2 separate regions of the Homo sapiens genome follow, and region 1 is linked to region 2. The links come from fine-mapping of genetic effects on gene expression. A gene starts in region 2. The other region holds a variant in brackets. All regions are shown on one strand. Distances are between the middles of the regions. Region 1 holds the start of TOP1MT (DNA topoisomerase I mitochondrial). Region 2 holds the start of ZNF696 (zinc finger protein 696).

Evidence for each region. PIP is the estimated chance that this variant, and not a neighbour inherited with it, causes the effect.
Region 1: its variant is fine-mapped to the expression of ZNF696 in caudate (GTEx, PIP 0.98). The same link has a PIP of 0.9 or more in nucleus accumbens.

Annotation. Positions count from the first base shown.
Region 1 is chr8:143,323,370-143,335,311 of GRCh38, forward strand. TOP1MT (DNA topoisomerase I mitochondrial) reads right to left here and starts at 11,511. Exons shown (of 14, transcript NM_052963.3): 1 at 11,371-11,511; 2 at 7,855-7,970; 3 at 5,981-6,102; 4 at 2,853-2,975; 5 at 1,977-2,164; 6 at 1,116-1,260; 7 at 630-773. The coding sequence starts at 11,492. RefSeq lists enhancers at 1-351, 8,526-9,059, 10,735-11,419, 10,959-11,008 and a silencer at 11,209-11,668. The variant A/G (reference allele first, on the strand shown) is at 5,259.
Region 2 is chr8:143,283,425-143,295,366 of GRCh38, forward strand. ZNF696 (zinc finger protein 696) reads left to right here and starts at 7,993. Exons shown (of 3, transcript NM_030895.3): 1 at 7,993-8,343; 2 at 9,548-9,641. The coding sequence starts at 9,578. RefSeq lists an enhancer at 7,482-8,057 and a silencer at 7,528-8,247.

The DNA.
Region 1 (11,942 bases), 40 kb after region 2:
CCACACAGATGCATGCCACACACACAGGCACGCCACACACGCACGCCACACACACAGGCACGCCACACACGCACGCCACACGCACGCCACACACATGCTCACCACACACGCACGCCACACACATGCACGCCACACAGGCACGCCACACACACATGCACGCCACACACATGCTCACCACACACGCACGCCACACACATGCACGCCACACACACAGGCACGCCACACACACACGCACGCCACACACACAGGCACGCCACACACGCACGCCACACGCACGCCACACACATGCTCACCACACACGCACGCCACACACATGCACGCCACACACACAGGCACACCACACACATGCACGCCACACACACATGCACGCCACACACATGCACGCCCCACACAGACATGCCACACACAGGCACACCACACGCACAAGTGCACACACACCACACAATGCACATGCACACCCTACACACATGTTCACACCCACACACGTGTGCACATGCACACACCCCCCCCATCAGAATGAGGTTCCACCCCACACACAGGCCCACGTCGCCACACTGCACCATCCAACTGGGAGTCCTCGCCAGGAGAACCAGGATGAAGAGCCGCCAGGAAGCGAGAAGGCCGCATACCTTATCGATGAAATACAGGGCCACCGCCCGCTGTCTCGTCTTCATTTCCCGAGACTTCCAGTCAGCCCGGTACTGGGAGCGGATCTCGTCCACAAATCCCCGCAGGCGTCGAGCTGTTTCAAACTTCTGCCAAGCTGTCTCCCCCTAAACGAAGAAAATAACAGGAAAGAAAACATTCACATTCCTGTTAAATAACGGAGGAGGCTGTCAACTCTCCCTCCCCCAAACCTCGTGCTTCTCCACTCAGTGGTGCCGTGGTCAGGGGCTGGGGCAGCAAATCTAGCTGGGTGATGCCGGCAGTGAGCACCCATGCCCACTCCTGGCTTTGGGGCTTGTGCCTGCTGGCACAGCATGACCTCAGCACGGGCTGGCCGACTCCCAGCCCATCTCAGAAGCCTCTGCCGGTGCCCGGCTTACACACCTCCCTGCCGGCGTCCTCAGGGGGACCTCCTGGGGAGGAAACACCCTGCCAAGCCCTGCGCTCACCTTCAGCTTCGAGCAAGGGTTCAGCATGATGTACTTGATGGAGTTCTGAACGCTCTCGGTCCAAGCTGCCAGCCACGTGACGGTGTTATCGGAGCGCACCTCCTTCCACTGGTGCCCCGCCGGCGGCTCGGGGATCTTCGAGTCCCTGCAGCAGAACAACGACCCAAACATAACTTGGAGACCTTATTCTCTGGAATGCAAGCAAAAGGAGCTGCTCTGGTCAACCGTCCCACGTGGTGGCTATGGTGGTGGCATGGCTCCTGACCGAGTCTGGCATCAGAGGTGGCCTGCCTGGCAGCTCAGACAAAAGCAGCCACTCAATCTACCCTCTGCACACACAGGAAGGCCACAGTGCACCAGGAGGCTGGGCGGCCACCCAAGCAAGGCACCGCTCTGCACAGACCTCTCAGCACCAACTGGGACGACGAGTGCCCTGCCCCACACAGCCTGGCCACTGGGGGTCCTGCAGGCAGGGTCCCTACTCCACCCTGTGGTCACACAGTACAACATGTGGCCCAGCAGTCCCCTCTCCACCACTTGGAATGTCCCTCCAATAAGTTCAAAACACCTAATGCTACTGGGCCATCCAGATGGTGTGGGATATGAAAACCACATGGAGGTGTCCTTGGCGGGAGAAAGTCTCAGCCATAGCAAGGCGAGGACTTCCGACCCCGTGGGAAGCACCCTGGGAAGGCCGCCCTTGCCCGGCCACGCCTACAGGCTGAGCTCCACAGGAATGGTGTGGGGGTCACCAACCACATGTTTCTCGGTGTGCCTCCCTCTCCCAGGAGGTGAAGAAAAGCCAGCCTCACCCGGGTGGCGGGGGTCCAGTGCCCGCCTGCTGCCCGCCCGGCCACGCACCTGCTGCAGTTGATAACCACATCCTCTGGCGTGATCCTTCTCTTCAGCATCCCCATCTTGGGATGGTCGCCACGGCCACGGAACAAGCCAGGCGGCTCAATCTTGAAGTTGCCTATTTTTTCTTGGTGACCATCTAAAATACAGTAGCCGAACTCTTGCTGAAGTTTTTCTGCCTCTTCTTTTAGCTTCTGAGTTAATAAAACAGTCAGTGGACATTAGCAGTGAAGAGAAGAGAACAGGCCTCAGTCCGTTGTTGCTAACCCGGGACCACCCTGCTCTGTCTGGCTAACTCAGCTGGACCCTCAAAGCCCTTCACAATCCATGGAGGTTGCAGGGGCAGGGGACAGTGCAGGTGGGCTTGCAGGGGGCACCGAGAGCCATGGCCTAACCACCCCATGGCCTGGACTCCCCGGCCCCTGCACAGACTTCGGCTGTTTTAGGCCTAAGCAGTAAAGCCAGGTGGAGGGAGCGTGGCTGCCCGCCATGGAGGAGGAGGGCTAAGGGAATCCCTGAGAAGGCCACATGGAGATCACAGCACGGCAGGTTCCTGTTAGATGTAGGGAGACGCATGGCACAGAACAGCAAGAAGCCGACTGGCCTGCACAAGCCCCGCCCTCAGCCCACGGCCCGTCTGGGAACCCACCCTTGATCAATGATGGTAAATTATCCATTTCAAACCGGGTTTACTCTCAAATGTGCTCTGGGGAAGCGGAACGACACTTAAGCACATGCAGGGGCGCTAAGGCTGACGAGAAAAGAGCAGCTTTGTGAGAAGGGGCTTCTCTAAGGCCACAGGCCTTTCTCAGTCTTTGGGCCAGGCCGGCCTCTCGTTCCCAGGGGCCACTTCAGGTCACACAACGCTCGAGGCAGCCCAACCTGCTTCTCCTCCCTGCTCAGGACTTTCCGGGCTGCGGCCTTGTCCACAAAGTATCTGTGGATCTCCGTGAAGTCACACTTGTCCAGGCTCTTGATGACTTCCCTCTCTTCCACCGCCATTTCCTGCAAAAACCACAGACACGCGCTCTCACCATGTCTGAAGGACAGACATGCAGAGCGCTCTCGCCATGTCTGACGGACAGAAACGCGCTCTCGCCATGTCCGACGGAGGCGTGTGTGCAATAGGCAGAACCTGCGCACGGTCCTGCGGCCCCGTAAATAGAGCCTCTCCCCGCAGACCCCACAGATAGAGCTGGTTCTGTTATTGCAGGCATGGAGTTGGGTGGGGCAGCGGAGGGCACAGTTCTCCAAAAGCAACTTCACAACAAGTCAGTAGTAAAACTGGCTAAAACCTTTGCACCCAATAATTCCACTTTGAGATCCATCCTAAATAAACTCTCCAGTATGAAAACCCGGATGACGACCGCACTAAGGGCAACTGCAGAAACGTCATGACCGGACAGAGCAGGATACATGGTCGGGAGCTCATCTGGTGAACGTGACGGGATTCGCGAGGGCAAAGTCTCAGTCCATACGTGCTGCTGCCACAAAATACCGGGGACTGGTCAGTTGTAAATCATAGTCACAGCTCTGGGGGCTGGAAGGCTGGGATCAGGGTCCCAGCATTTGACGTCTATGGAGGGCCCAGTCCCTGCTTCTGAGAGGATGCCCTGAAGGCTGTCCTCACACAGTGGAGGGGACAGAAGGACAGAAGGGGCCCAGCTAATTCCACCCAGCCCTGCCCTAAGGCCCTAAATTAATCCTAAGGGCTGCAGCAAGGTGGAGTCCTCACAGCCCAATCAGCTCCTAAAGGCCCTCCCTCTGTCCTGTGGTGCTGGGGATTCAGTTTCAAGGTGAATTTTGGAAAGCACAGCAGAAAACAGTTTGACGATGATCTACCCGTGTGGAGACTAAGCGGGATAAAATGCTAAGTGGGGAAAACATTACAGGCACACTGATCACACTCACACGAAAACTAGTGCCCAGGAAAAGCCAGGACGCGGGAACAGGAGACACTGACCTGAGGGAGAGCCGCAGATCACAGGCAACTGTTTCTCCTTTCGTTTCCTACACAACAAAAACTCTGCACAGCCCATGGACAAAAGCCCAGGCTTGCGGGCACCAGCTCACGGTCCCAGTCCAGGCTCGGCCACTTAGGCCTGTGAGACCTCAGGAGCTGCTGTCAAACGTGTCTCGCTGTGGGATGGGGATGATCCGCCTCTTCCGAGGAGCTCAGGTACGACACCATCTGTGCCAGGATGGAGCCCTGCTCGGCCACAACCACGGGCTCAGGGTCCGTCCCTGTGTCTCCCGGGGCCGCCGGATGTGCCACCCACTCCTGTTCTGCTGCTTTGTGACACTGCCTCCCTTCCTAGCTCTGCTAGTGACTGGAAGAAGTGCTGACCAGAGGGAGAATGAGGATGCCGGGCAGCTGGTGCCACCTCACAAAGCTGTCGTGAAAGGCAGAGGGGTGGCATCAGGCCAAAGAAGAGGGTCCAGAAGCGGAGCCTGCACAGGGGACAAGGAAGCACAGGCTCCAGCAGCTGGCTCGGGGCAGTCAGACACCCACATGCAACACACGAGCCTCGGCCTCTACCCCACACTATAACCAAAATTAACTCAGAGTTCCACCTAAACCAAGCTGACCTCAATGGAAACCTAAAACCAAAACTTCTAGGAAAAACATAGGAGGAAATCTCTGTGCTGCCGAATTCAGCAGATTTCTTAGACAAAACAACAAAAGCAAACCTGTGACAAAACATGAAACGTGGGACCTCATCAGTATTCCAAACTCCTGACCTTCCAAAGACATTGTTAAGAGAACGCAAATAGAAACTACAAACACCATGAAAGATTTTTGCAAATCATATTTCTGATAATGGACTTAAAACAGGACACAAAAGTACTCACCATAAAAGACAGATTGATAAACGGCATAACTAAGTTACAGTTTTCTGTTTGGAGACCTCACTGAGAAGTGAAAAGGCAAAGTCTGGGAGATGACATTCACAGCATGTGCGTCTGGCAAAGAACCTGCACCCAGGATGCGTTTTTAAAACTCCGATAAATGAGCGAGGAATACGCAAGCAACTCAGTTTTTTAAATAGACAAAAGTTCACGAAAGAAAATACTGAAATGACACGTCAGTACACCAAAAGATGCTTAATATCACTTGTCATTAGGGAAACGCAAACCACACCCACGGCGAGGTGTCATTTTGTGCCCACTAGAAAGGTGCCTCGCACCCGCGGCAGGCGTGTGGACAGTTCAGCCTGGTGTTGCTAGTAAGCTGGACACACGTGACCCAGCAATTTCACCCCAAGTCCTGTCAGAGGCAACTCACAC[A/G]TATGTGCCCTCACCCACGTGGGAATGTTCATGGCAGCTTTACACATGCAAAGGCCTAAAACAGGAATTAATCAAACACCCACGAATAGGGAAATGGACTAGCATGAGTCACGGAACAGAGGAAACGCGACCCGGCCAGAGCCAGGAAGATGCTGCGGGACAAGCAGTCAGGGGCGAGCCTCGCAGGTGTGGGGCAGACAGAAACCCCGGAGGGCACAGAATCCGCGGCACACACATAAAATCAGTCAGGCCATGGGCGAAGGGCAGTCACCTTGAAAATGAGCAAGGAAAAAGCCTTGAGGCAGCACCCTCCCCTCCAAAGAGCTTCTCGCCAAGCATGTCTTCCTGGGGGCTGGGAAATGGCATGCGGCCTCCTCTACTCTCCTTCTTATATGCCAGACCCCTGTCCTTTCAGCGGTCCATGGAGTAAGGACCACAAATCGGCCTCCACATCCACAGCCTGCCTGGGAAGGGAAAGGTCTGAGGTGCACTAGGCTGGACACACTGGCACCGCCTATGGTCCCAGCTACTCAGGAGGCCGAGACAGGAGGATGGCTTGAGCCCAGGAGCTCGAAGCTGCAAAGAGCCATGACGGCACCTGTGAGTGGTCACACAGGGGCCACCGAGAACTTGCGAGGGGCGTTCAGAGGCAGCACTGCAGAACCGCAGACGCCTAGCCAGCCAGGTCCAGGACAGCTGTGGCGGCCGCCCAGGGTACCTACCTTTCGCCAGTCATTGAAGAAGTTCTTCCGGAAAACCTCCTTTGTTGTGTATTCATGATCTAACATCCTCCCATAAAAAGTGGCGACCTCCTCCGCTGCCACGCTCAATCTCACAGGCCTTCCTGCAGGCATCGGAAGACACATCGTATGAGAGAGCGGCCAGAGGCTCGGCCTCCAGCTGACATGACCTCATTGCTTTAAACTACGCTTTCGTGCGTACTATGCCAAGAGCAAGAAGCTAGGCCTTCTTCTGTAAGTTCAGAAGCATGTTCTGCATGACACACGACAATCAACCTGCGTGGAGGTGGCGACCACAGTGATCTGGGAGCGGGTCGTGAGAAAGCTGCAGAAGATTTCAGGCGCTACTGCTTTCTCCTCCTTTACCACTTAACGTTGCTACTACATTTATATTACATGAAAATGGAACATGTACAATTTTAAAACACACCAATTTCCACAAAATTTCACAAGTAAAATAAAAGTTAAGGCTTCAAAGCAGAAAACTGAATAACTAGGTGTACCCTTTTACAACTCTGCGGCCTCTGTCCCACCATTCCCTGCATTTTATTCTAAGATCAGTGTGGTTTAGAGATGGGGGGTGAGCTGGGAGCAGGCGAGCAGAGTGAGAGGCTCGTGGTGGGAACGAGGGTGTTCACCAGGAATTCTTTCAACTGCACGTCTGAAAAGCTTTCATAAGAAAATTTTAGAGAAATAAATGCATAATCATTTGGTAAGAAGGAGGAAGGCATTTCTGATAAACAGCAGCAATCCTTCCCCAAACTAGCTTCTCAGGACAGAGGACGAGAGGCCCAGAGACCAGCAGCACAGGCCCGAGGGGCTCAGCTCCCACTGCCCCTCTGTGGAGGCTCGGCCCCACTGGGCCCCACGCGACACCACCACTCCCCGGACTGTCCACCATGGCCCTGCATAAGCAGTCCTCGCCTGCCATGTCCCTCCTGGCCAGGGAGGTCCTGCAGGGCTGCTGTGGGGCAGGCGAGGCAGCCGCTACACCAGGCCAGGGGCACAGCGCGAGACGCTCAGTAAGGTCCCATGGCCTCCCGTGGGCAGCCCCCACAGACACAGCTAGAACCTCTGTCCCTGTGGAAGCTCCAGTACCGCTTTGGAGAAACAGGCTTTGAACAAAACATTGCATCAAAGGAGCTCAGCAAACTCAGGTGTGCATGTGACTCGGCAGGGGGCCCACGGGAGGGCTGGTGGGAGGGGCACAGCATGGCGTGGGGGCCTGCCCTGGGGGAGAAGAGGTTTGCTTTTCTTAGAAGGATGCCTTCTAGCAGAGATGAAGAAAATAGGCTGAAGCAGCTAAAATCAGCAGCACAAGAGCCAAGCCAAAGCTCCTGGGCCCTGGGGTAGAGAGGAGGGCTCAAGGGCAGGAGGGGTGTGTGGGCCCTGCTGCCCCAGAGCCCCCGGGTCCTGCCTCTGAGGGTGGCTCAGCGCTCATGTCAACCACGGGCTCCGCTTCTTGCTGAGAATCACAAGCTGGGGTCAAGTGACCGTTCTGTGATCCATGTGTGTACACGCAGTGTACGTACTGTGTATACTCAGAACACACAGGGAACACAGTGGTGCGGGGGGAGGGAGGGGGGGTCCGCTTTGCCCAGAGGGTCCTGGACACAACAGGCACAGCCAGTGCAGGCTCAGCAGGAAAGGCAGGGACGGGAGCCCCCGAACTGCCACCCTCTGAGCATGGGTCAGTTGGTCAGCAGCCCCCACGCATCACCTGCAAGAAGAGGGCACAGAGCGCTCATAGCCAGAAGCCTGCAGGGGGGCTGAGGGAGCGAGCCAGATGCCCACTGGGAGCCCACGCCCAGGGAACCAAGCGCAGGCTGGGGAGGAGCCGCTCCCTGCATCCTTACCTTCATAGAAGAAACGCACTCCGTCGGGAAGGGGCTCGTATGGGGGTGCGAAGTACGGGCCCTTGTGCTCCAGCTGTCTCCACTTCACCCCGTCTTCGTGCTTCTCCTTCTCCCACCTAAAGACGGAGACAGGACGTGTCACTCTCCTGGGCCAGGCCCTGCATGAGCCTCTTCCCCGCTCCCACAGTGGCTCCTCCCTGTGGCTCCTAGCAGGTGAGCAGTGTGGCCTCCACCTCACGGGGGAGGAAAACAAGGCCTGCAGAGGGAGGCAACCCTACCTGACCTCAGACCCCATGCCCGTGTACCCGCCCATGCCCCCCACCTGCAGAGGCCCGTGTGCTGCTGAGTCACGGATCCCACCAAGCCCAGCTAAGCGGGAAAGGGCAAGCCCAGCTAAGTGGGAAAGGCAACGTGCCTCTCCCAGGCTCTAGGGCCTCTCCCCAGATGGGTCCCTTCAGAGCCGGTCTAGAATCTTCGGGAACCTCTCCATGGGACCATTTCATTTGCTAAATAAAGGACCTGGCTGCTTATGAGAGAGCCCTGCCTCCGAGGAGCTGGGTGGAAGGGGGTCCAGCAGTGCAGCCAGTGGAGAGGCACCACAGCAGGGCGCAGGACCGCCGCCCACAGAGGATCGGGCAGGGTGGAAGGGTGGAAGAGGCAGGGCGGGGTGGAGGAGGCGGGGCAGGGAGGGGAGGCCCTGAAGCCAGAAGCCTCAGGGGTTTTCAGGGAAGGGCTCCTTTTGTAAGGCACTAACACAGTGAGGCTCCACAGGGCTCCCTGCCAAGGTCCCCCTCCCCAGGGCGCCCCCTTCTGGCAAGCCCAGCTCTGGAGATTGGGGGGGTGTTGGAGGGGGTGGGGGGACACAGCCAGCGTGGCGGCTACAGCCCATCCTAACTCTCCAGGCCAGTCATCATCTATCCATTGAGGCAAGCCCAAGCCTGCCCTGAACCAGCACTGCGCTGGGTCCTGCGGATGCAGATCACCAAAACCCATACGAAGGGCTCAACTGAACCTAGATTCTGAGATGGGCCTGGGAGAAGAGGAGCGAGATGGGGCGTGGCTGGCAGGCAGTGGGCAGGCTCGGTCAGCAGGGCTGCGGGAAGAGCAAGTCCAGCACCCAGGATGGCCAGTGCAAAGGCCTCAGTGGGAGAGGCTTTGGCGAGAGGGTGGGAGCACCATCAGGATGGGGGAGAGTGAGATGGGCACACCTTCTGAGCCTCCCCCAGACGCACAAGGACAGAAGGTTCCAGATCACACCCCCACCTGCCAGAGCCAGGAGACCTGCACGTGACCCCAGCCAGGTAGTGCTGTTGGGGGCCTGGTGGGCCTGGTCGGCTGGGATGAGTGTCCTCAGAGCAACAGGAAGTCTCTGAAGGGTCTGAGAGGGGAAAGCATGTGCAACAGACATTTCTGAAAGGGCCTTTCTGGCTGTTTCTGCAGAGGAGGGAATGGGCAAGGTTAGAAGACGTAGAGACGGAGCTGATAAAGTAGGGAGAAGTTAACGGGCTCAAGAACCTTCCAGGGTGGAGCCGGGCGTGGTGGCTCACGCCTGTGATCCCAGCACTTTGGGAGGCTGAGGCAGGCTCAGGAGCTCAAGGCCAGCCTGGCCAACATGGCGAAAGTACAAAAAAACTAGCTGGCAGATGCTGCAGGCAGCTGGAGTCTGGAGGGAGACTCGGGGAGAGGGGGGTTCTGCTGACTCTGCAGAGCTTTTCCACGTCAGGTGAGACCAGCCTCACCTTTCTTACAGGTTTTAGGAGTTCAAGAGAGCCCACCAGCCCTGATACAGCATGTCTAGGGTGGGGCTGGTAGGAGGCTGCACCACTAAGTGCCCTGAAGGATGCAAACCTAGACAACGCCTTCTTAGAGAATAAGGGAAGATGGATCATGTCGGGTGTGAGAAAATGGGAAACCACGTGTATCTCGGAACTAACTGATAGGAGCCAGGCGCGGTGACTCACGCCTGTAATACCAGCACTTTGGGAGGCCGAGGCGGGCGGATCACTTGAGGCCAGGAGTTCGAGACCCGCCTGGCCAACATGGCAAAACCCCCGTCTCTACTAAAAATACAAAAATTAGCTAGGCGTGGTGGCGGGTGCCTGTAATCCCAGCTACTCAAGGAGGCTGAAGCAGGAGAATCACTTGAACCCAGGAGGCAGAGGTTGCAGTGAGTTGAAATTGCACCACTGCACTCCAGCCTGGGTGACAGGGCAAGATTTTGTCTCAAATAATAATAATAAAAATAAAAATAAAGAACTGACAGTGACCCTGACTGCCAAGTCCTTCACAAAGCCTCTAGGGTAGTCACATCACCAGTCTCATTTCACAGATGAAGACACTGAGGTGAAACAACCTGCCGGCCAGCGGCCAGGCAGGGCTGCACCACTGGGTGTGCGCTCAAGCCCAACTGAGGGCTGCACATTGTAGTGACATTCTTTCACCCCTGCAGAGACCAGGGCACCAAGCACCACCATCAGACACAAGCTGGCTTTCAAAGCCAGAGACCTTGCTCCAAACCCACCTGTCCACCTGGGCGACTGCAGCTCAGCAGCACTTTTTGGAAAGCACCTACCTGCCTGTGCACCCTCGGAGAGATGTGCCTCAATGCAGGGCCCACAGCCAGCCCCAGCTCCAAGCGCAGGCCAGAACTCCCTCCTCCCAAGACACCCTGCCCCATCTGGGGCTCTCTTTGGGTCCCAAGCTCCTGCAGGCAGACAGGACATTTCTGCAGCATGGCCTTAGGCAGCTGTGCAGGCCCTCAGCTGTGAATGGGTATGCTGATAGCGCACCACCAGGTCACAGAGACATGCCACGCTGGAAGCACTAAGTGAATGATGATAAACCGCGAGACCTGGCGGGAACTCCTGCAGGATCTCCCACGCACCAGTGAGGCTGTCAACTCTCCAGCTCTTCGGAAACTCCAGCATTTCATGCGCAGAGACCCATCCCCATGCGGCTACCCCAGGCCCAGTATGCGCCGGCAGGGCTTCTCACATGTCCTCCAGGAAAGCGCCTGGGACCACCAACGGCCACCAGGGCCACTGGATCCATGCGGCTTGTGCCTGGTGATGTAGATATGACAGTGAGCGCCCGCCGCCATGCAGAATCGGTCCTGGAGACAACCCGGGAACCGACTCCAGGAAAGAGCGGGTCTCAGAAGACCATGCACAGCAACATAAGCTTTTTATAAAGTACCTAACCAAACCCTACAGTGTTGAGGCCCAGGCACAGCTACACAAATGATGAAACCACAAGCGGAAAAAAAGAGGGGAGATTTCCCCAAATAGGGTTGGTGGGGTGGTGCCTGGGGAAGCAAGGGCGACGTCATGGGGGGGCCTGTACACCCCGGGCAGGAGGCGGGCCGGTCACACCGCGGCACGCATGCTCTCCTGGCCCGACTTTTGGGAAAACCGGAAGCAGGGCAAGGCCGTCCCACGAGGCCTGCCACTCCCCTTTCTGGACCTACCCAAGCCCGGTGCTCAGGGCCCTCGCCGCCTGCTCACTGGGACACCTTACCTGGCTCCACTGCCCTTCTGCGTCCTGCGCGAGCCCGGGACACCCCGGGAGGCCGGGCGGCGGGGGACCTCCCCGAGCAGCGTCAGAGCCGCCCGGAGCCGCAGCAGCCGCACCACGCGCATCTGCCAGCCTCCGGGAAAGAGCGACAAGCTGGGCCCCGCCCCAGCGGCCAGCCCCGCCCCGCCCCCAGCGGCCAGCCCCGCCCCCGAGCGCGGCCTCCGCCCCCAGCGGCGCTCATCCCAAGGCTGGGCGGTCTAAGCCTGCACGGGGCTGCGGCAGCAGGACCACTGACTGTCCTGCCGGCCTCCCCCTGGTTTCCCTGCCTTCGTGGTCCAGCGCCCCTTCACGCTGGGCGGGGACCCAGATCCAAACCCAGTCCCACTGACCTCTGCAGCACAGGGCTGGCTGTCAGGATGCCCCACAGGTCACACGACCAGGCCAGTGAACTCCTGCCCAGGGCTTGCACACAGCTCTCTCCCAGAGCCTCTGAGGGCAGGGGCACCTAGCAGGTCCTTCCTAAGTACACGCTCTGCTGCTCTGGAGAAGGGACCACACAGGCTCAGATGGCCCCC
Region 2 (11,942 bases):
TGCCCTCTGCAAGGCCGCTGCCCAGGCTCTCCTCAGACACCACCTGGACGGGCAGCTCGAGCCGTGGGACGCCCCTGCTTGGGCCAGAATCGGGTCCTGCACCTCAGACCTGCAGGGCCCAGCTCGGCCTCTGGGCCTCTGGCAGCCGCGCCCTGCCTGGCACCCCCTGCCTCCGTGACGCCCCATCTCTCTCTCTACAACGTAGCCCCGTGCTAGTTCACAGCCTCGCGACCCCTCCCAGAGAGGCCCCACAGCCATGGCCCCCAGCCGCGCGAGCAACGCCAGGCACTCGCCCGGCCCTGGCCCGCCACCCTTGGGTTCGCCTGGGGTCCCCCGCCAGTCTTCCGAACGGGTCCTCCGAGCTGCCTAGAGCGCCCGGAAATGCCCTCGGCATGGGGCGGGGCTTGCGGGGGCGGGGCCGCGCTGCCGACTCGGGCTGGGCTTGGCTCACTGGGCCTAGGCAGTGCCTCAAGCGTGGGATACCCTGGTCAAGTCTTTAAAGATCACAGGTTTTAAACAGATTTCTTTTTACCCAATAGCATTTATTCATACTCTTTAAAGAAATTTGGGAAGTGTAGGAAAAATAGAAGAGACAGAAATTTTCTCCTCAGCACTACGGGCTAAGTATCCCAAATCCAAACACCCCCAATTCAAAACTTTTGAGCAGCTGACATGCCGCACAAAAGGAAATACTCACTGGAACACTTCAGATTTCGGATGTGGGAATTTGGGAGGCTCACCTGCTAACTATGGTACAAATATTCCCCAAAAAAAGCCAAAGCTTTTTTTTTTGAGACAGAGTCTCGCTCTGTCGCCCAGGCTGGAGTGCAGTGGCACGATCTTGACTCACTGCAAGCTCCGCCTCCCGGGTTCACGCCATTCTACTGCCTCAGCCTCCAGAGTAGCTGGGACTACAGGCGCCCGCCACCGCGCCCAGCTAATTTTTTTTTTTTTTTTTTAGTAGACACGGGTCTTCACCGTGTTAGCCAGGATGGTCTCGATCCCCTGACCTCGTGATCCGCCCGCCTCGGCCTCCCAAAGTGCTGGGATTACAGGCGTGAGCCACTGTTCCCGGCCGCCAAAACACTTCTGGTCCCAAGCATTTTGGATAAGGGATACTCAGGCTGTACAAGGAATGTCTGTGCACGTTTTTAGCAGCTCTTGCTGTTACACTAAATAGACTTCATGGTTAGCTTGTCCCTAAAATAACCTTCACGTCCTGAGGTCTGAGATCTGCTGGGAGCAGTGCTGGAAGCCCTATTCCCCCACAGCGAGAGGGGCGCCAGCATCCCTCATTTACGGGAGGAAATCGAGACTTGGTGAGGACGTCCCACAGCCCGGATTTGAACCCAGGCTTGGATCCGAGGCCCACGTGCTTGCTCCACAATGCCCCCTGCTGGCCACCCTCCCTGCCCTCAAAGATTGCTGTAACCAGAAGTGGACGAGCATTTCGGGGAGGAATGCTCCCCGCACAAGCCGAGGGGTCTCCCAGACTCCACTTTGGTGTCCCTGGAGTGCCCATGCCAGCGACCTTTTGGTGGGTCTTTTACCCCAGATGGAACTGTCGCCAAGTGTGTCCCCATCGTGGGGAGAGGAAGTGGATCAGCAGCGTCAGGCCTTGCGGAGGTGCACTCGCACCCTCCTGCGCTACGGTCTCAGAGGCAGGAGGACGCTTTCAGGGAGCCAGCCGCTGTGGCACCTGCAGCAGTTTCAGCAGTTGGGCAGCTCCAGCCGCCCTGCCACACCCTCACTCCTCATCCACTCCAAAATTCAACGCAGCATGCCGAGCCCCAGGTACGTTGAGGCGGAAAGCTATGGTCCCCGCCCGGAGGAGCCATGCAGTTCCCCGCAGCGTGGGTGGAGGAGGAGGGACAGGTGTCCCAGTCCTTGAGTCTCAGGTGGGCAAAATCATGCCACTACTGTGGCACTCGTGTGCCTGACTCCAGGCAGGGCCTTCCCGTCCTGCCGCCCTGCACTCTGTGCATGGCCATTCTGTGAGGCTGCTGCTCCTCAAGCAGCCCGTGGGATGGGAAATCCCCTCGTTTACACGGTAGACCATCCAGCCCAGCGCCTGCTGCAGAGCCTGGGTGAACAGCGTCTGGGTGACGAGAGTAACAGGCAGGATGCAAGTGGGAGCAGGCGGCTTCCCAGGACCTCGGTCCATGTGCCCATCCAGCAGGACCCTGAGCCCAGCTCCCATCTGGGGAGAGGGCTCCACGGGGGCAGGCAAGAGGGGCTGCATGCTGAGCTCCTGAAAGCTCTAGAATGCCCTCTGTAGCCATTACACTCGACGGAGGGCATGGCGAATAGCAAGGGCTTGGGGCATGTGGTTGGGTTTTAGGTTTTTCCTTGCAGGACTGTGCTGAGCCTGCACCACTGGGAAGCCCTTGGCCTCTGCCCTTTCTCTGAAACGCTCCTCTTCTGCCTGGATGCCTTGGTCATTCTTTCCTCATCCATAACCTTGAATAGCTTCACCAAGATCCGTGCTGGTGTCAATATTTTATATTAAGTTTTCCTGGGATATGGTGTTCTTGATTTTTTTGAATTAGGGTATAATTTACATAGCGAAAATGCCCAAATTTTAAGCACTCGGCTTGACTGTTTACATGTTTACACTCTTGCTAATCCCCCCAGGTCACAGCATGGAACTTTCCAGAGCTTCTCCTCCCTTTCCCTTCCCCTCCCCCAGCTGATGGGTATTCTAGCTTCTGGAGGGCCCTGTCTGCCATCGGGCCTCTCAGGAATGGATTCGTCTGCCCGCCCTCCTGGCACTCCTTTTGCTCCACACGATGTGCTAGAGGTCACTCCGGGTGGTTCTGTGTGTCTGTTGGCCCCGTCCGCGCCGGCGTGTGGTTTCCCATTCTGAGTGTTTGCTCTGACCCCATTTTTATTGCTGGGGTTGTGTGCTTCTCAAGCCCTTTTCCAATCCCAAACCTGTGGTGTCTTTTCTGAGTTAGAACACCCTAGTGGCTACAAGGACCCCAGAGTAGGAAGCCCAGCATCCGTGCGACAAGGCTGGGTTCCCTGAGAGCCAAGCGGCCTCCCCACCTCAGCGCCCTCCCCAAACTCCTGCCCACACTTCAGGACCCGCTGGCAGTGCTGCTTGAGTCACTGCTCCCTGCTCTCTGCTTCTAATGAGGCCTCCACGCGCTGCTTTCTGGCACCTGGCAGGCGGTGCCTGCTGTGCCTGTGTTTCTCCCTTCTCTTTCGCGAGCTCCCAGGGCAGCCCCCGTGGTGCTCTGTCCACCTTCGGGGGTGTCCCTGGTGCCCAGCGCAGCAGGAGTGAATGTCCTGAGCCTGAGCCAGTTCTCCTTGACTGCACAGCACCAAGGTGCCAGTCAGTGCTGGTCAGGCTGGCCGCTAGGTCTTGGTGCACCCGCCACTTCCTACCACCCTTGCATTTTCTCCTCTTAGGGCCACTGGTGTGTCTCACCTGGAACCTGCTCACCAAAAACCCGTCTGTTACTTCACAGATCCTGCCACGCGGGAGCCCGGCACAGCTTGGCTGAGGTCTCTGCCAGGGTCTCCTGGAGCTGCCATTAAGCTGTCCTGGTCTCCGAACTCCTGTGGAGCTTGAGGTCCTTCCCTGACCATTCGGGCCGTGGCAGGATTTCCATCCTGCGGCTGTGGGGGTCAGGCCCTCGGCTTCCAGGGGTAACTCAGAGGTCTCTGCCTCCCCTGCTCCTTCTGCCAGGAGACTGGGAGTCCTTCCTTTCTGTGTCACCTGTTTCCTGGCTGCGTGTCCACTTGCTTCAGTTGACCCACGGCCTCTTCTTTGAACAACAGTCCTCTTTCTCTGAGGTCTTTTTTTGTTTGTTTGTTTTTGTTTTGTTTGGTTTGATTGGTTTGTTTTGAGACAGAGTCTTGAAGGGGTGGGTTGCCCCTCCACACCTGTGGGTGTTTCTCGTTAGGTGGAACGAGAGACTTGGAAAAGAAAAAGACACAAAGTATAGAGAAAGTAATAAGGGGACCCAGGGAACCAGCGTTCAGCATATGGAGGATCCTGCCAGCCTCTGAGTTCCCTTAGTATTTATTGATCATTCGTGGGTGTTTCTCCGAGAGGGGGATGTGTCAGGGTCACAAGACAATAGTGGGGAGAGGGTCAGCAGACAAACACGTGAACAAAGGTCTTTGCATCATAGACAAGGTAAAGAATCAAGTGCTGTGCTTTTAGATATGCATACACATAAACATCTCAATGCTTTACAAAGCAGTATTGCTGCCCGCATGTCCCACCTCCAGCCCTAAGGCGGTTTTTCCCTATCTCAGTAGATGGAACGTACAATCGGGTTTTATACCGAGACATTCCATTGCCCAGGGACGGGCAGGAGACAGATGCCTTCCTCTTGTCTCAACTGCAAGAGGCATTCCTTCCTCTTTTACTAATCCTCCTCAGCACAGACCCTTTACGGGTGTCAGGCTGGGGGACGGTCAGGTCTTTCCCTTCCCACGAGGCCATATTTCAGACTGTCACATGGGGAGAAACCCTGGACAATACCTGGTTTTCCTAGGCAGAGGACCCGGCGGCCTTCCGCAGTATTTGTGTCCCTGGGTACTTGAGGTTAGGGAGTGGTGATGACTCTTAAGGAGCATGCTGCCTTCAAGCATCTGTTTAACAAAGCACATCCTGCACAGCCCTTAATCCATTTCACCCTGAGTTGACACAGCACATGTTTCAGAGAGCACGGGGTTGGGGGTAAGGTCATAGATTAACAGAATCTCAAGGCAGAAGAATTTTTCTTAGTACAGAACAAAATGGTGTCTCCTATGTCTACTTCTTTCTACACAGACACAGTAACAATCTGATCTCTCTTGCTTTTCCCCACAGGTCTCACTCTGTCACCCAAGCTGGAGTGCAATGGCGTGATCTCAGCTCACTGCAATCTCCACCTCCCGGGCTCAAGTGATTCTCCTGCCTCAGCCTCCCGAGTACCTGGGATTACAGGCGAACACCACCACTCCCGGCTAATTTTTGTAGTTTTAGTAGAGATGGAATTTCACCGTGTTGGCCAGGCTGGTCTCAAACCCCTGACCTCAGGTGATCCACCCGCCTCGGCCTCCCAACGTGCTGGGATGACAGGAGTGAGCCACTGCGCCAGGCCCAGCTGTCTTTGTTTTTCAGGGGTGCCTTTGGTAATTTCTTCATCGTACTTTTTTTTTTCAGGGTAGCAGGTAAGAGACTCAGTGGATAGGCTCATGGAAACAGTCCTTGAAGGGGTGGTATTCTAAGACTCAGCTACTTTTTTTTTTTTTTTTTTTTTTTTTTTTTTTTTGAGACGGAGTCTCACTGTGGAGTGCAGTGGCGAAATCTTACTGCAACCTCCGCCTCCTGGATTCAAGCAATTCTCCTGCCCCAGCCTCCCGAGTAGCTGGGACTAAGGCAAGCACCAACATGCCTGGCTAATTTTTTGTAATTTTTTTTTTGGTGGAGATGGGGTTTCACTATGTTGGCCAGGCTGGTCTCGAACTCCTGACCTCGAGTGATCCTCCTGTCTTGGCCTCCCAGAGTGCTGGGATTACAGGCGTGAGCCACCTCTCCGGCCTGGACTCGGCTACTTTTGGATCAAGAAATCCAGAATTTTCTAGACTGTGAACTTGCCCTTTATCATGGACATTTACCACCTGCAACTGCCCAGAGGTTCTCTGTCTCACCCTACACCGTGAGGACCCCCTTAGCAAACAGAATTCCAGGGCGCGGGCTCTTCGCAGGATCTGAGCTATTCGCGGGCGTCCTGAGTTGCTTGGATTCACTCCCCCACCCCCATGTCCCTGGAGTCCTGCCTTGTGTTTTCGATTCTGTTTCTCAGGGGCCCCAGCGTGTGGCCTCCCATTGTGGGAGAGCAGGAGGGAAGCGGTGAGGGGTGATTTCGGAGGAGGCAGAGCCCCGGGTGTCCGTGGGAAGCTCCAAAGCCGGGCCGCGGGACGGCTACCCTGGGCTGTGACGCAGTCCAGGATCTTCGCCAAGGCACCTGCTGGAGGCCCCTCCTGGGTCCCACGACCCCGACTGCGCCTGCCGGCTGCCAGCGAGGAGGCGGGGCCAAGGCGAGGGCGGGGCCGAGGCAGGAGGGGCGGGGTCGGCCTGATGGGCGGGGCTTCCGTGTGGGCGGGGCTGCTGGCCCTGCGGTCTGAGCCAGCGGGGAGAGGCCCGGGCGGAGGAGGCTGCGGACTCCTAGAGGTTCAGTGCCGGAAGTTGGGCCTGGAAAGGGGGCACCGCCTTCCCGGTTCTGGTGGCGGGGAGTGAGGGGACGGGCGAAAGCGGCACAGGGAACAGCATGACACGGGCCTGAGGCAGGGCACATTTGGAAAGGGGCGAGGAGAGGGCAGTGGCTTCTGGCACGGCAGCAGTGGGCATACAGAGGCAGTCGGGACCCGTCTGGAAGAGCCTCCGCCCGGGGTAAGGAGCCGGGACTGTGTCTAGGAGGCAGTGGGGAGCTCCGGAGAGCGAAGCGCCTCCTGCGCAGACTCGCGTGCTTGGAGTACCGGAGCCTGCAGGGCAAGAGAGGGTCTTCAGAAGACCCACGACGTTCCACTGGGATGCAGAGGGAAACGGTTACTTGTACTTCTACATCATCTCTTTTAGATGTGTGTGTGTGTGGTGTGTGTTGTTGTTGTTGTTTTTGTTTTGCGACAGAATCTCTGTCACCCAGGCTGGAGTGCAGTGCCAATCTCGGCTCACTGCAGCCTCCGCCTCCCGAGCTCAAGTGGTCCCCCCGCCTCAGCCTCCCGAGTAGCTGGTACCACAGGCGCCGGCCACCACGCCCGGCTAATTTTTAAAAAAAATTTTTAGTCGACACGGTTCTAACTATGTTGCTCAGGCTGGTCTGAAACTCCTGGACTCAAACAATCCTCCTGCCTTGGCCTCCCAAAGTGCTGGGATTACATTCATGAGCCTCTCGCCCACCCAGTCTAAGTGTTTTAATTTTTATCTTTTACAACAGCTTCTAATTTGTTACAAATAAACGTGCAGCATGTGGTGGGAGTGTTCAGGTGTTTACTGGTGCAGTGCGCAATGAACGCGGTTCCAGGCACGAGATGTGGAGGCCCAGAGGCAGATGCCGGGTGGCGGCGGCGCGGGACTGTCGGAGGCGCGGGCAGGGACCTGGGCTCCCAAGGCTGTGGCCCTCCCGCCCCAGTCCAGGGTCCAGTTCCAGGGGCGCGTCTGGCCCTCTGTTGCTGTCTTCTTAGGGTTCTCTCATGGGAATCGGTTCTTCAGCCTTTCTTTTCTCCCCAGAGAGGGTCTGTCTACTCGTTGTAAGAGGGAACAAGTCCACATTGCAGCTGTACACTTTGCACCCATGATGAAAAGCGTCACTTTTGCAGCATTCCAGCTGGAGATGCGTGACCTTCGGTCTGCGGCAGGCGGAAGGGCGAGAGACTTGGACAGGAGGTGCATCTTGCCCGGGGAAGGCTGAACGAATGAGAGCTCGGTCCCTGGTGAGAAAGAGCCCAGAGCCCGCGAGAGGCGGGCAGCAAGGGCTTCTCTGCAGCGGAGACGCGAGGGCGGCGTCCTGCAGGGAGGCGGGGGGCAGCGCCTGGGGCGCTCCAAGCTCTCGGCCCCAAGGAAGCCCACGCTCGGGACCCGCGTGCTGCCACAGCCCCGGGGGCCTGGAGGGTCCCGTGAGCCGAGCGGGACCCGGGACAAGCGCGGGACGCCGCGGGGAACGGACGGGAACGCGCGTGGCCGCCCCACAGCGGGCCTTCGACACCTCCTGACACGTCCTGCGGGTGCCCGGTCCTCAGTTGGCTCGAGCCGGATCCCGGCGCGCCAACGGCTCGACCTTGCCCCCCACGAGGCAGGGCTTCCTGCCCGGCAGGAAGGACTCGGCCGGCGCCTGCGGGCAACCGATGAGCTGAAGGCGCCGCGGCTGGGCCGTCCCGCTCTCCCGCCGCCGAGCGCGCTGTCCTCCCGCTGCCCAGAGCGTCGCCGGAAGTGCCGAGGGGGCGGGCCAGGGGTGGAGACTGGCGTTTCCGGCGCGCGACGGGGCGGGGACCGTAGCGGGTGCAGTCCAGCTGCTCTGGACGCTGAGGCCCCGGCTTCTCTTGCTGGGGTGTCGATTCGGGAGGGCTGAGGGCGCGGCCGAGAGAACGGGGCGGTCACCGCCGCCGTGGCCCGCGCGTCCCGCGCTCTCCTTGCAGTGCAGGCCCCAGCCGCTCTCGGGCGCGGCGTGGGGGAGGCGGCCCTGCAGGTGCGTACCCGGGGTCCGACACGTGCGGGGCTTCCTGCGAGCTGAGTCCCCGCTGCGCGTCTTCAGGCCTTTGTAAGTTGTCAAATTTCCCACCGGCCCAGCTCATCGAGCTTCTTCCCAGCTGTGAACAGGAGGGCCTGTTCCCTAATTCTTGCCGGTAAGGTACTTGCAAAAATCTGCTTCCAGACTAAAAAATTGCACTTTAAATTACCTTTTTGTAAAAGCGGCGGGGTCTCGCTATGTTTCCCAGGCTGGCCTCCTACTCCTGGGCTCAAGCGATCCTCCCGCTCAGCCTCCCTGGCAGGCGGGATTACAGGCGGCTTAAATTAAATTTACTAATTAATCACTTTATTTACTTATTTTTTTAAGACAGGGTCTCACTCCAACGCCCAGCTGGAGTGCAGTGGCGAAATCTCGGTTCACCCCAGCCTAGACCTCCTGGGCTCAGGCAGTCCTCCCACCTCAGCCTCCCTAGTAGCTGGGACTACAGACGCCCACCATCACACCTGGCTAATTTTTTGATTTTTTGTAGAGACGGGGTCTCACTATGTTGCCCAGGCTGGTCAGGAACTCTTGTAATCAGTCAGTCCTCCATCCTGAGCCTTTTGAAGTGCTAGGATTACAACTGTGAGCCACAGCACCCAGCCAAATTACATTTCTTAATTGCACTTGAGGTGAGACCTAAAAAAATGTATTGCCTACTGGTTTTTCTTCTTTGTGAGTTACCTATTCATGATCTTTGCCAATTTTCCTTCCTTTCTCATTAATATATAGAGGTCTTTATCAGATAGGGATGAATCTTTGCATTGCACGTATTCCTCCCTTTTTGGTTTTTTTTTTTTACATTAAATTTTTTTATGTAGTTGAATTTGTCAGACATCTGATGTCAGGCTTAGAAAAATCATTCCTCATTCCAAAACTTTACCATTCAAATAAGTTGTTCTTTTCTTCTGGTTTAACATTTTTATATTCAAATCCTTATAACTACCAAGAAAATTTTAAAACCCATGGGAATTTCTCTAGACATTTGAAGACTGCTGGAGGGCGCGGGCTTCCTCAGCATGGAGCTAGGAAGCTGTGGCCACGCCCACCTGTGCTCTGCGTCAGCCCTGGGTGGAGGGGGACCCGCAGAGCCTGGACCAGAGTTCCTGGGCATCCCACAGAACAGAACACCCGCTTCTGGGAGTGTCTGTTGAGCCAGGACCTTGATTGCTAGTGACAGGAGTGGGCCCAGCTGGGTGATGCAGCTCCCACAGGGCCTGTTCTGACAGTTTCCTCTGAAGGCATTCTGACCTCACTGCCCCTGGCCCCTGTACCTAGCCCTGGCTGTGATTTATTTTCCTTTTCTTTTACCTAAGCAGAAATTGTTCCAACTGCTGGTGTTCTGCAAGATGGAGCCAGGAGGAGAGCCCACAGGTGCTAAAGAGAGCAGTACCCTGATGGAGTCCCTTGCAGGTGAGGGGACATGTCCACAGTCGGGCCCAGAGTTCCAGGGCAGGAATTGAACAGGAATACAGGAAAAACACCATGTCTCAGTCACTGACGCAGAGCATATACTGTGTCCTTGGGCGCAGGGTGAGGGAGGGAGGTAAACGCAGGCCCATCAGATCTCCTGGGCATCTGTTTGGTGACTGTCTTTGCCAGTGAACTGAGAGCTTTTGGTTAGAAAGTCTGGCAGCCCCAGGCTCTGCCTCTGGGAAGGTCTCTCTCTCAGTGCTTCTCCACCTTGGCACCGTGGCTGTTTTGGAATGGACGAGTCTTTGTTGAGGGGCCATCCTGTGTGTTGTAGGACGTTCGGCAGCACCCTCGCCTCTGCCCACTTGGTGTCAGTAGGGCCCCCTCCCAGTTGTGACAATCCAAAACATCTCCACACATTGTCAAATGTGCCCTCAGGACAAAATCGCCCCCATGAGAACACTGCTTTATGTTTTGGGGCCACCCTGAGAGTGTGTCACAGCAACAGCCCGGGAGATGGCGTGGGCAGTGCAGGCCCTGCTGTGAGGTCTGGGATTGCCTCCATCGGAAAGGCGTCCTTGGGGCCTGCAGGCTGGATCCAGTAGAGCTCCACCACGTATGTGTCCCCTTCTCACCATAGTCTTGGTTCTTTTTCCTCATAAGCAATACCTTTGAGTCAGTTCTTGAACTTCCAAGTCTGCAAACCACAAGACCAGGGCTGGGCCTCTGCCAAGGGGCTTCTGTTCTGCAGGCCGCCCTGAGCGCCTCCCGCCCCCTGGCTGCTCAGTGTCAGGGGTCTGCAAGGGCAGAGAGAGGTGGGGACTGTCGATAGCAGCCTGCTCTCATCTGCCCTGGAACATCCCTGCCCCACCCCCACCTCCACAGGAGCTTCCGTCTTATCTGCGCCCTCCACATTCTTGAGAGGTGCAGCTGGGACTCAGCCGCTTCTCCTCTGCTGCCACAGCGGACTGCCTGCAGACTGAGAAGTCCTCCTCAGTTGCTGTGCTGGCCTCGTTGGCCCCCCTCCTCCTGCTGCCCCTCCTGGCTGAGTCCTCCTGCCTCCTATGCAGGCCAAGCTCAGTTGCCAGCTTTCTCATGTCCCAGGGTTTCACCCCTACCCCTTAAGCCTTTTTTCTAAATGGCCACATGGTCTGTCCCTGTGAGCCAGTGGAACCAAATCTAACCAGTGGCTTGACTGCCAGACAAGGGCCATTGATAACGCAGCCTGGATGGGGTTGCTCAGCCTGACCAGCGCCGCCGCCGCCCAGCCCACATGGGACGTGGGTTGCTGCTTCCAGCTCTTGTTCCGGATTTCTTTTCTTTTCTTTTTTTTTTTTTTAAGACAAAGTCTTGCTCTGTCGCCAGGCTGGAGTGCAGTGGCGCCAGCTCACTGCAATCTCCACCTCCTGGATTCAAGTGATTCTTCTGCCTCAGCCTCTCAAGTAGCTGGGACTACAGGTGTGCACCACCACACCCAGCTAATTTTTGTATTTTTATTAGAGATAGGGTTTCACCTAATCTTGATCTCTTGACCTCGTGAACTGCCCACCTCAGCCTCCCAAAGTGCTGGGATTACAGGCGTGAGCCACCGCGACTGGCCTCTTGGTCCGGATTTCTGTCTGAGTGAGGACGCTCCTGTTTGCACATAACAGAAGCCCTTAGAGTTTGGTGTTTGGGGGCAGTTGTTAAGGAGTCTGCGTTGTCTCAGGGAGTCCAAGGTAAAAGGAATGAGCTGGGGCCATGGCTGGGTGTGGTGGCTCACACCTGTAATCCCAGCACTTTAGGAGGCTCAGGTGGGAGGAGGGTTGAGCCCAGGAGTTCAAGACCAGCCTGGGCAACACATTGACACACTGTCTCTACAAAAAATTTTTAAAATAGCCTGGTGTGGTGGTGCTCACCTGGAGGTGCGCCACCTACTTGGGAGGCGGAGGGAGGATCACTTGAGCCCTGAGGCTGCAGTGAGCCATGATGGTACCACTGCACTCCAGCCTGGGTGATAGAGCAAGACCCTGGCTCACAAGAAAGGAAGGAAGGACAGACAGAAGGCAGAGCTGGGCCGTGGGCTCTGTTGGGTGCCACTGTCCCCGGGCCTCCTGCTACATCTGCCTCGCTCCCGTCCTGGCTTGCTGCCAGCTGTCTCCAGCCTCCTTTGCTTTCCCAGCTGTCCCGCAGAGTAAGGCAGTGCCCAGAGCCTGCGTTTCTGTCCCCTCCCCTCCCAGGACTGGGTGGGCCGAGGCTAGAGGTTTAGCCCTGTTTCTAGCCCCGTTTAGCCTCGTTTCTGTTTGTATATTTTTAAAATTC